Linked DNA regions of Homo sapiens: region 2 is reported to be linked to region 1. Evidence: microRNA targets listed by miRTarBase, many of them from high-throughput screens and not tested one by one. Region 1 holds a microRNA gene; the other region holds the end of a gene's coding sequence.

Region 1 (4,152 bases):
TTTGTGGCCAGGGGCATGGATGCTGCTGCTGCTGCTCTTCCTGCTGCTGCTCTTCCTGCTGCCCACCCTGTGGTTCTGCAGCCCCAGTGCCAAGTACTTCTTCAAGATGGCCTTCTACAATGGCTGGATCCTCTTCCTGGCTGTGCTCGCCATCCCTGTGTGTGCCGTGCGAGGACGCAACGTCGAGAACATGAAGTGAGGGGCAAGGGGTCTTGGGCAATGAGGGAACCTAAGGGTACAAAGTGAGTAGTGGATTGGGGGAAGGGGGCATGGTGTGTGTAGAAAAGACTGAGAGAGACCAGAGACAGGGAATGGGGAGAGGACTGCAAAGGTGGTCAGAAAGACAGTAAGGTGGGGGGAGCTGAGGCATGCAGATGGACATCAATGGATCCCACTGGGACCCCTTGCCATGACCCCACAGGATCTTGCGTCTAATGCTGCTCCACATCAAATACCTGTACGGGATCCGAGTGGAGGTGCGAGGGGCTCACCACTTCCCTCCCTCGCAGCCCTATGTTGTTGTCTCCAACCACCAGAGCTCTCTCGATCTGCTTGGTGAGACCCCACCACAGGGCACACCTCCCCCAGCCATGCCTCCCCTCCTGAAACCTTCCCTAGAATATCTTCTCCTAGAGATCCTCAATTCCCCTTCCTCTGGGACATTGCCCCCTTGCCTCCCACTCAGGCCTTCATTCCCTGGGTAGAACTGCCCTCATAAGCAGGTTACATATACTTTTGGTCACCCTTTCCTTCACTTGGGGCCCCCCTCCCTGCCTAGTCTCCTCCTTCACCTCCAGTCCCTACCAGAGGGTGATGAGCTGGGTGAGGTGGGTTGCCTTCTGTGACACTCTGCCTCCACCCCGATCCTCACCCACTCCCACCCTGCCCAAGGGATGATGGAGGTACTGCCAGGCCGCTGTGTGCCCATTGCCAAGCGCGAGCTACTGTGGGCTGGCTCTGCCGGGCTGGCCTGCTGGCTGGCAGGAGTCATCTTCATCGACCGGAAGCGCACGGGGGATGCCATCAGTGTCATGTCTGAGGTCGCCCAGACCCTGCTCACCCAGGACGTGAGTCATCCTGGGGAAATGGGGGATTGGAGGGATACAGAGTAGAACAGTTGTAAATAAACTGATATGCAGGGCCAGTGGGCCTCAAAGGTCCCATTATAACATCACACCTATTCTGACTCCTCCATATGTATTTGTCTTCTTTGACCCTCTTTCTCCCCCAGGTGAGGGTCTGGGTGTTTCCTGAGGGAACGAGAAACCACAATGGCTCCATGCTGCCCTTCAAACGTGGCGCCTTCCATCTTGCAGTGCAGGCCCAGGTGACTACTGCTCTTCGTTCTGCTACTCAGCTGCCAACCCCCACCATTCCCTCATCTCTGGGCAGGGGCTTATTGTAGGAGTCTCTGAAGAGAGCTGTGGACTGACCTGCTTTAACCCTTCCCCAGGTTCCCATTGTCCCCATAGTCATGTCCTCCTACCAAGACTTCTACTGCAAGAAGGAGCGTCGCTTCACCTCGGGTGAGGGCTTTGAGCAGTTCTGGGGTAGGGTGTGTCCGGAGAGGCTGGGAGGACATCCCTGTGAGGCAGGGGGATCATTCAGTGTCAGAGCCATGAGATGTCTACACAGTCATCTAGTCTAACCCCACATCAGCCAATAAGTCTTTACTAAGCACCCACCATACCCTGCCAGATGGGTAGCACTTGGTCCCACCAAGAGAGGCTGTTACTAATCTTAACAGGAAAGATAAGGCCTGTGTGCACAAAGCTGTAATGAATAACACTCATTCAGCAGTAAATGCCAAACCCAGAGGAGGGGGGCTGGAGGGGTGCTGAGGAGATGTCTGAACTGGGGATTGGAGAAGGCTTTGTATAGGAGAAGGGCCTCAGAAGTGGCAGCTGGCAAGCCCAGGGATGGTTGTCCAGGGTTGGGGGAAGAGAACTGAAAGGTTGAGGAAGAGTATCACTCGGAAGCTGGGCCCCACCTGTGGGCAAAGACCTGGGTGGACAGGCCATGATGGTGCTCCCCTTGCCCCAGGACAATGTCAGGTGCGGGTGCTGCCCCCAGTGCCCACGGAAGGGCTGACACCAGATGACGTCCCAGCTCTGGCTGACAGAGTCCGGCACTCCATGCTCACTGTTTTCCGGGAAATCTCCACTGATGGCCGGGGTGGTGGTGACTATCTGAAGAAGCCTGGGGGCGGTGGGTGAACCCTGGCTCTGAGCTCTCCTCCCATCTGTCCCCATCTTCCTCCCCACACCTACCCACCCAGTGGGCCCTGAAGCAGGGCCAAACCCTCTTCCTTGTCTCCCCTCTCCCCACTTATTCTCCTCTTTGGAATCTTCAACTTCTGAAGTGAATGTGGATACAGCGCCACTCCTGCCCCCTCTTGGCCCCATCCATGGACTCTTGCCTCGGTGCAGTCTCCACTCTTGACCCCCACCTCCTACTGTCTTGTCTGTGGGACAGTTGCCTCCCCCTCATCTCCAGTGACTCAGCCTACACAAGGGAGGGGAACATTCCATCCCCAGTGGAGTCTCTTCCTATGTGGTCTTCTCTACCCCTCTACCCCACATTGGCCAGTGGACTCATCCATTCTTTGGAACAAATCCCCCCCACTCCAAAGTCCATGGATTCAATGGACTCATCCATTTGTGAGGAGGACTTCTCGCCCTCTGGCTGGAAGCTGATACCTGAAGCACTCCCAGGCTCATCATGGGAGCTTTCCTCAGCACCTTCACCTTCCCTCCCAGTGTAGCCTCCTGTCAGTGGGGGCTGGACCCTTCTAATTCAGAGGTCTCATGCCTGCCCTTGCCCAGATGCCCAGGGTCGTGCACTCTCTGGGATACCAGTTCAGTCTCCACATTTCTGGTTTTCTGTCCCCATAGTACAGTTCTTCAGTGGACATGACCCCACCCAGCCCCCTGCAGCCCTGCTGCACCATCTCACCAGACACAAGGGGAAGAAGCAGACATCAGGTGCTGCACTCACTTCTGCCCCCTGGGGAGTTGGGGAAAGGAACGAACCCTGGCTGGAGGGGATAGGAGGGCTTTTAATTTATTTCTTTTTCTGTTGAGGCTTCCCCCTCTCTGAGCCAGTTTTCATTTCTTCCTGGTGGCATTAGCCACTCCCTGCCTCTCACTCCAGACCTGTTCCCACAACTGGGGAGGTAGGCTGGGAGCAAAAGGAGAGGGTGGGACCCAGTTTTGCGTGGTTGGTTTTTATTAATTATCTGGATAACAGCAAAAAAACTGAAAATAAAGAGAGAGAGAGATCTGGGTGTTGGTGGTTGCATTTGTTAAGGAATTGAAGAAGCAGTTCTTGCCCAGGCAACCTGCCCCCAGCCAGAAGACTCAGGGGCAGGCCAAGAACACAGGCCTCCCCCTTTCTTCAGCTCTCTGAAGTTTCCATTGTTCATTGCTCTTTGGTGGCTGATAGCCTTATCTGCAGCTCACAGTCGGCCAATCCCAGAGGATTAGTGGGTCCGGTTTCTGTATAAATTAGGGGGCAGGGGTGCTGTAGAGGCTTCTTATCGATGATTGACGCCGAGGCCCAGGCTGTTGTCCTCACAGGAGCCTGGTTAATGACATGGCAGACACAGTGGCTGTGGTCAGCCTGGAGTGGACTACACTGCCACTCTCACCAAACAATAAGTGAAACTGTTGGGCTGGGGACAGGATTTCAGAAGAGAACGATGGTAAAGTGGAGAGGCATGAGGATAGTGAATGTTGGAGAGGGGCTTGGAGGAAAGAGGGAATGCCTGAATGGAGAGGGGTCTTGGGGAAAGTTGGGGAATAGAAGTCAAGGCGGGAGGAGTGTGAGGACTCACAGGCACCTAGCCTCTCCTCCAGCAGCAGCACCTGGTCGCTGAGAGATTCGATCCGGTCACCCCGGCCCCACAGCTCAGCCACCTGTTCTGGCTGCAGCTCTTCAGGCGGCACGGGCAGCACCGCTCTGACCCAGGCCCCAGCCTGACCGGCCCACTAGAAAGGAAGAGATGCCTCAGGGTATTGACAGTGACGTCTGGCCTCGCCCCACCCAGCAGGCTTGGCTCACCTGCTCCAGCCGCTCCAGGCGCCCTCGCAGCTCGTGAATCTCCTGCTTCAGAGCGCGCTCATCTTTTTCCGCCTCCCGAACTAGGGACAA
Region 2 (4,000 bases), not on the chromosome of region 1:
TAGGGGCCCCCAGCCACCAGTCATCACATGAGCATACAAAAGACACTTAACTCTGCAGATTCCGCTGGATGTCAGGGATTGGGGATAAAGACCAAATACATATTTCACAATATCATAGCACGTTATTTTTTGCGTCTCAGCAAAAGTGACAAACACAATGGGAAAAGGAGACTGATTTCCCTCATGCCATTATGAGAAAAATATCTGAGTGTACTCACTCAGTAACACACACGGCAAAGGCCATTATGAGAAAAATATCTGAGTGTACACAGTAACACACACGGCAAAGGCAAAGTTATTCCAGAGGTAATATGTAACTGGCAAAATTTTCCTCAAATTCTTTCCTCTTTTTACTATGACCTAAGCTGCACACACATTTCTGCCTCTGCATCCTTGATTGTACACGCTGCAAATATAGTCAATTTGCATTATTTGTGGTACTTATGTTCCATAAAGTCCACAAACACTGAAGTAGTGAATACCAAATCACTGCTCCTAGAAAACATACAGGGTTAGGTTTCTGCAAGCTTTGTTTTTGTCAACAGAACAATGCAACATATTGTTGATTCAGTAACACTGAACTCTCTGCCAACAGCATTATAACTTGTGCATGAATGAAGCTTATCTAATATACTTATTTTCTCCTAAGCCTTCCTGAGCTTAGGAACATCAGAAAGCACTCCAGCAGGGCATTTGGAGGCCATTTTAAACAGTAAAATCACCAACAAAAAGAACAGAAATTAGGAAGAGATGGGACTAAGTAGACTCAAAAAGGATACATGTTTACGGTATGAGAGCTGAAACTAGAAGGCAGAGTACCATTTGTTTCACTTCTGTTGGGAGGTGACTCACATTTTTGCCTACAAATGGCTCAAAAGCACTTGTGCAAGTACTGGTTCTGGGGTTATGGATAGATTTGAGCAAGGAGGCAAATTTACAAATATAAAATCCACAAATAATGAGGATATTTCAATTCCTTCAATGTGGTTGGAAAGCACAATTGCCCCAATAGGACAGTCAGAAACCAGGACTAGGAACTTGTATGAAAAAAGAACCTAGTCTTAATTGCCACCATCTATGTCTAAAATAAATTCTCAGGGAAGCAGAATTCTTACCTCTGTATGCTGTACATTTTTTCTATTAAAAAATGTCATAACTTCATTAAGCAGGTGAACTAAAATTTAAGAGACATCAATCAAAGAAATGACTAATGAATTTCACTTTAGTTTTTATTTTATTGTAAAACATTGAGATGGAATGATAGGGTTTCCCAGAATCAGGTCCATATTTTAACTAAATGAAAATTATGATTTATAGCCTTCTCAAATACCTGCCATACTTGATATCTCAACCAGAGCTAATTTTACCTCTTTACAAATTAAATAAGCAAGTAACTGGATCCACAATTTATAATACCTGTCAATTTTTTCTGTATTAAACCTCTATCATAGTTTAAGCCTATTAGGGTACTTAATCCTTACAAATAAACAGGTTTAAAATCACCTCAATAGGCAACTGCCCTTCTGGTTTTCTTCTTTGACTAAACAATCTGAATGCTTAAGATTTTCCACTTTGGGTGCTAGCAGTACACAGTGTTACACTCTGTATTCCAGACTTCTTAAATTATAGAAAAAGGAATGTACACTTTTTGTATTCTTTCTGAGCAGGGCCGGGAGGCAACATCATCTACCATGTTAGGGACTTGTATGCATGGACTACTTTACTGCATATATTTCAAGTTGCCCCCGCTTTTTTTTTCAACCACGCATTAACTCAAGATCAATGTATGTTCCATTAGAATAAGATTTATTAACTAGGAATTGCCAGAAAATCTTCCTGGTAACAAGGAAGTCCCCGTATTGTGAGTCTTAAGATTTTTCTGAAGAGAAAACCATACATATATAGCCTTTTTTCAGATGCTCAAAGAGGTCTAAAATCCTCTCCACCTCCAAAATAATAAGAAACATCTCAGCTGGGCACAGTGGCTCACGCCTGTAATCCCAGCACTTTGGGAGGCCAAGGTGGGCAGATCACTTGAGGCCAGGAGTTCAAGACCAGCCTAGCCAACATGGTGAAATCCCATCTCTACTAAAAATACAAAACTTAGCTGGGCATGGTGGTGCACCCCTGTAGTCCCAGCTACCCAGTAGGCTGAGGTAGGAGAATTGCTTGAACACGGGAGGCAGAGGTTGCAGTGAGCCGAGATCGTGCCACTGCACTCCAGCCTAGGTGACAGAGAGAGACTCTGTCTCATTAAAAAAATTAAAAAAAAAAAATGCTGGGTGAGGTGGCTCATGCCTGTAATCCCAGCACTATGGGAGGCCAAGGAGGGTGGATTAGTTGAGGTCAGCAGTTCCAGACCAGCCTGTCCAACATGGTGAAACCCCATCTCTACTAAAAATACAAAAATTAGCTGGGCGTGGTGGTGTGCACCTGCAATCCCAGATACTTGGAGGCTGAGGCAGGAAAATCACTGGAATCCGGGAGATGGAGGTTGCAGTGAGCTGAGATTGCGCCACTGCACTCCAGCCTGGGTGACACAGTGAGACTCCATCTCAAAAAAAAAAAACATGAATCATCTCACTGATCCTCTTATTTTACAAAACAGTAATATGCAGTATTGTTTAGTTTAACTTGCCATCATTCAGTAGCTAACCCTATTCTCCAAAGTTCTGGTAGCTCTAACAAACTGTAACTTTATAAACAGAGACAGGCACTTTGGTTCTATTCTAATACTTTCACAAACATACTGCATTTATAACATTTAAAAGATTTTAATTACTGTCAAATATATCTGGATTACATCTTTTTTTTTTCTTTGATAGCGTTTCACTCTTGTTGTCCAGGCTGGAGTGCAATGGGGTGATCTCAGCTCACTGAAACCTCTGTATTCCAGGTTCAAGCGATTCTCCTGCCTCAGCCTCCCAAGTAGCTGGGATTACAGGCACCTGCCACTAAGCCCAGCTAATTTTTTTGTTATTTTAGTACAGACAGGGTTTCACCATGTTGGCCAGGCTGGTCTCAAACTCCAGACCTCAGGTGATCCACCCACCTCGACCTCCCAAAGTGCTGGGATTACAGGCATGAGCCACTGTGCCTGGTCTGGATTACATCTTAACCTACAATATTTCATGAAGTTAATGATTTTAAATAAAAGGAAATCAAGTAACATCTGAATTTCTAAGTCTAAATACATTTAGATGATAGTGACTCCTGCAACTGTTTCAAAATTATTGGAAAATATGTCATTTTCTTGAAATGAACTTGGTATTAAAGGCAGCAAATATGTCTTTATAAGGAGTTTCTGAATCTGACTTGGTCGATGGTATTCGGCAAAGTTGGCGAAATCCAGGAGAACGCAGCAGCAAATTCTGTGAAAGGCCCACGAAGCTGGAGCATAACCAGTAGAGAACAATTGACTATAAAGAGAAGACATAAATGTTAGCATCTGTAATTCTACAAGGACATCACAGTCCAGACAATAAAAAATAAAATGACAATCTTTGTAAATACAAGTATGCCAAGACTAAGCAAGACTTGCAGCAGCTACTAGATTCCTGGGATAGATTTAATAGACAGGGAAAAAAGGTTACAGACAGACCAAAAAGCAAAAATAAAGGAAAAAGAGAAGTATTTAGGGTAGAAAGTAAAAAGAGAGAAGCTCCTAGGCAGAGGCTCAAGAGAGATCTTATCTCCCTTCTTCGACAATGGAACATAACTTTTTCCCCACCAAAAGTCCTGTCCAACTGCTTACATACTGAAGGTAGAATGCTGGAAGTGTGGCACTTATGATGGCAAACTTAGCCTCCCTACACCTAATTTTCCCCATACAGTCATCTATCTTCCAAATGTTTCCCAACAGCCAGTTTCTCAGTGTAGTAAGGAATGCATTTTCTTTGCCTTCTTCTGAGACAAACAGCCTCAGCATTATCTCCAAATTTCTTTTGTATTACCATCTTGAGCAGTGGTCCCCAACATTTTTGACACTAGGGGCCAATTT

Evidence for each region. Region 1 holds the annotated microRNA hsa-miR-6721-5p (UGGGCAGGGGCUUAUUGUAGGAG, at 1,386-1,408, shown strand). A microRNA usually pairs through its seed, bases 2 to 8, with sites in the 3' UTR of a target mRNA and lowers its output. Matches are read on the target gene's strand: a 7mer-m8 pairs with bases 2 to 8, a 7mer-A1 pairs with bases 2 to 7 and ends in A, and an 8mer does both.
Region 2: miRTarBase lists COX18 as a target of hsa-miR-6721-5p. Seed matches in the 3' UTR shown: 7mer-A1 at 2,023-2,029.

What each region holds. Positions count from the first base shown.
Region 1 is chr6:32,167,340-32,171,491 of GRCh38, reverse strand. It overlaps MIR6721 (microRNA 6721), which reads left to right and starts at 1,376; the gene lies at 1,376-1,462. EGFL8 (EGF like domain multiple 8) reads right to left here. Exons shown (of 9, transcript NM_030652.4): 7 at 4,063-4,142; 8 at 3,836-3,989; 9 at 3,211-3,582. The coding sequence ends at 3,536. AGPAT1 (1-acylglycerol-3-phosphate O-acyltransferase 1) reads left to right here. Exons shown (of 7, transcript NM_006411.4): 2 at 1-195; 3 at 422-555; 4 at 892-1,067; 5 at 1,232-1,327; 6 at 1,454-1,526; 7 at 2,044-3,280. The coding sequence ends at 2,216. PPT2-EGFL8 (PPT2-EGFL8 readthrough (NMD candidate)) reads right to left here. Exons shown (of 16, transcript NR_037861.1): 14 at 4,063-4,142; 15 at 3,836-3,989; 16 at 3,207-3,582. RefSeq lists enhancers at 994-2,193, 3,702-4,152.
Region 2 is chr4:73,054,869-73,058,868 of GRCh38, forward strand. It overlaps COX18 (cytochrome c oxidase assembly factor COX18), which reads right to left. Exons shown (of 6, transcript NM_001297732.2): 6 at 1-3,419. The coding sequence ends at 3,246. Among named protein-coding and RNA genes, the nearest start is that of COX18, 13 kb to the right of the region's middle.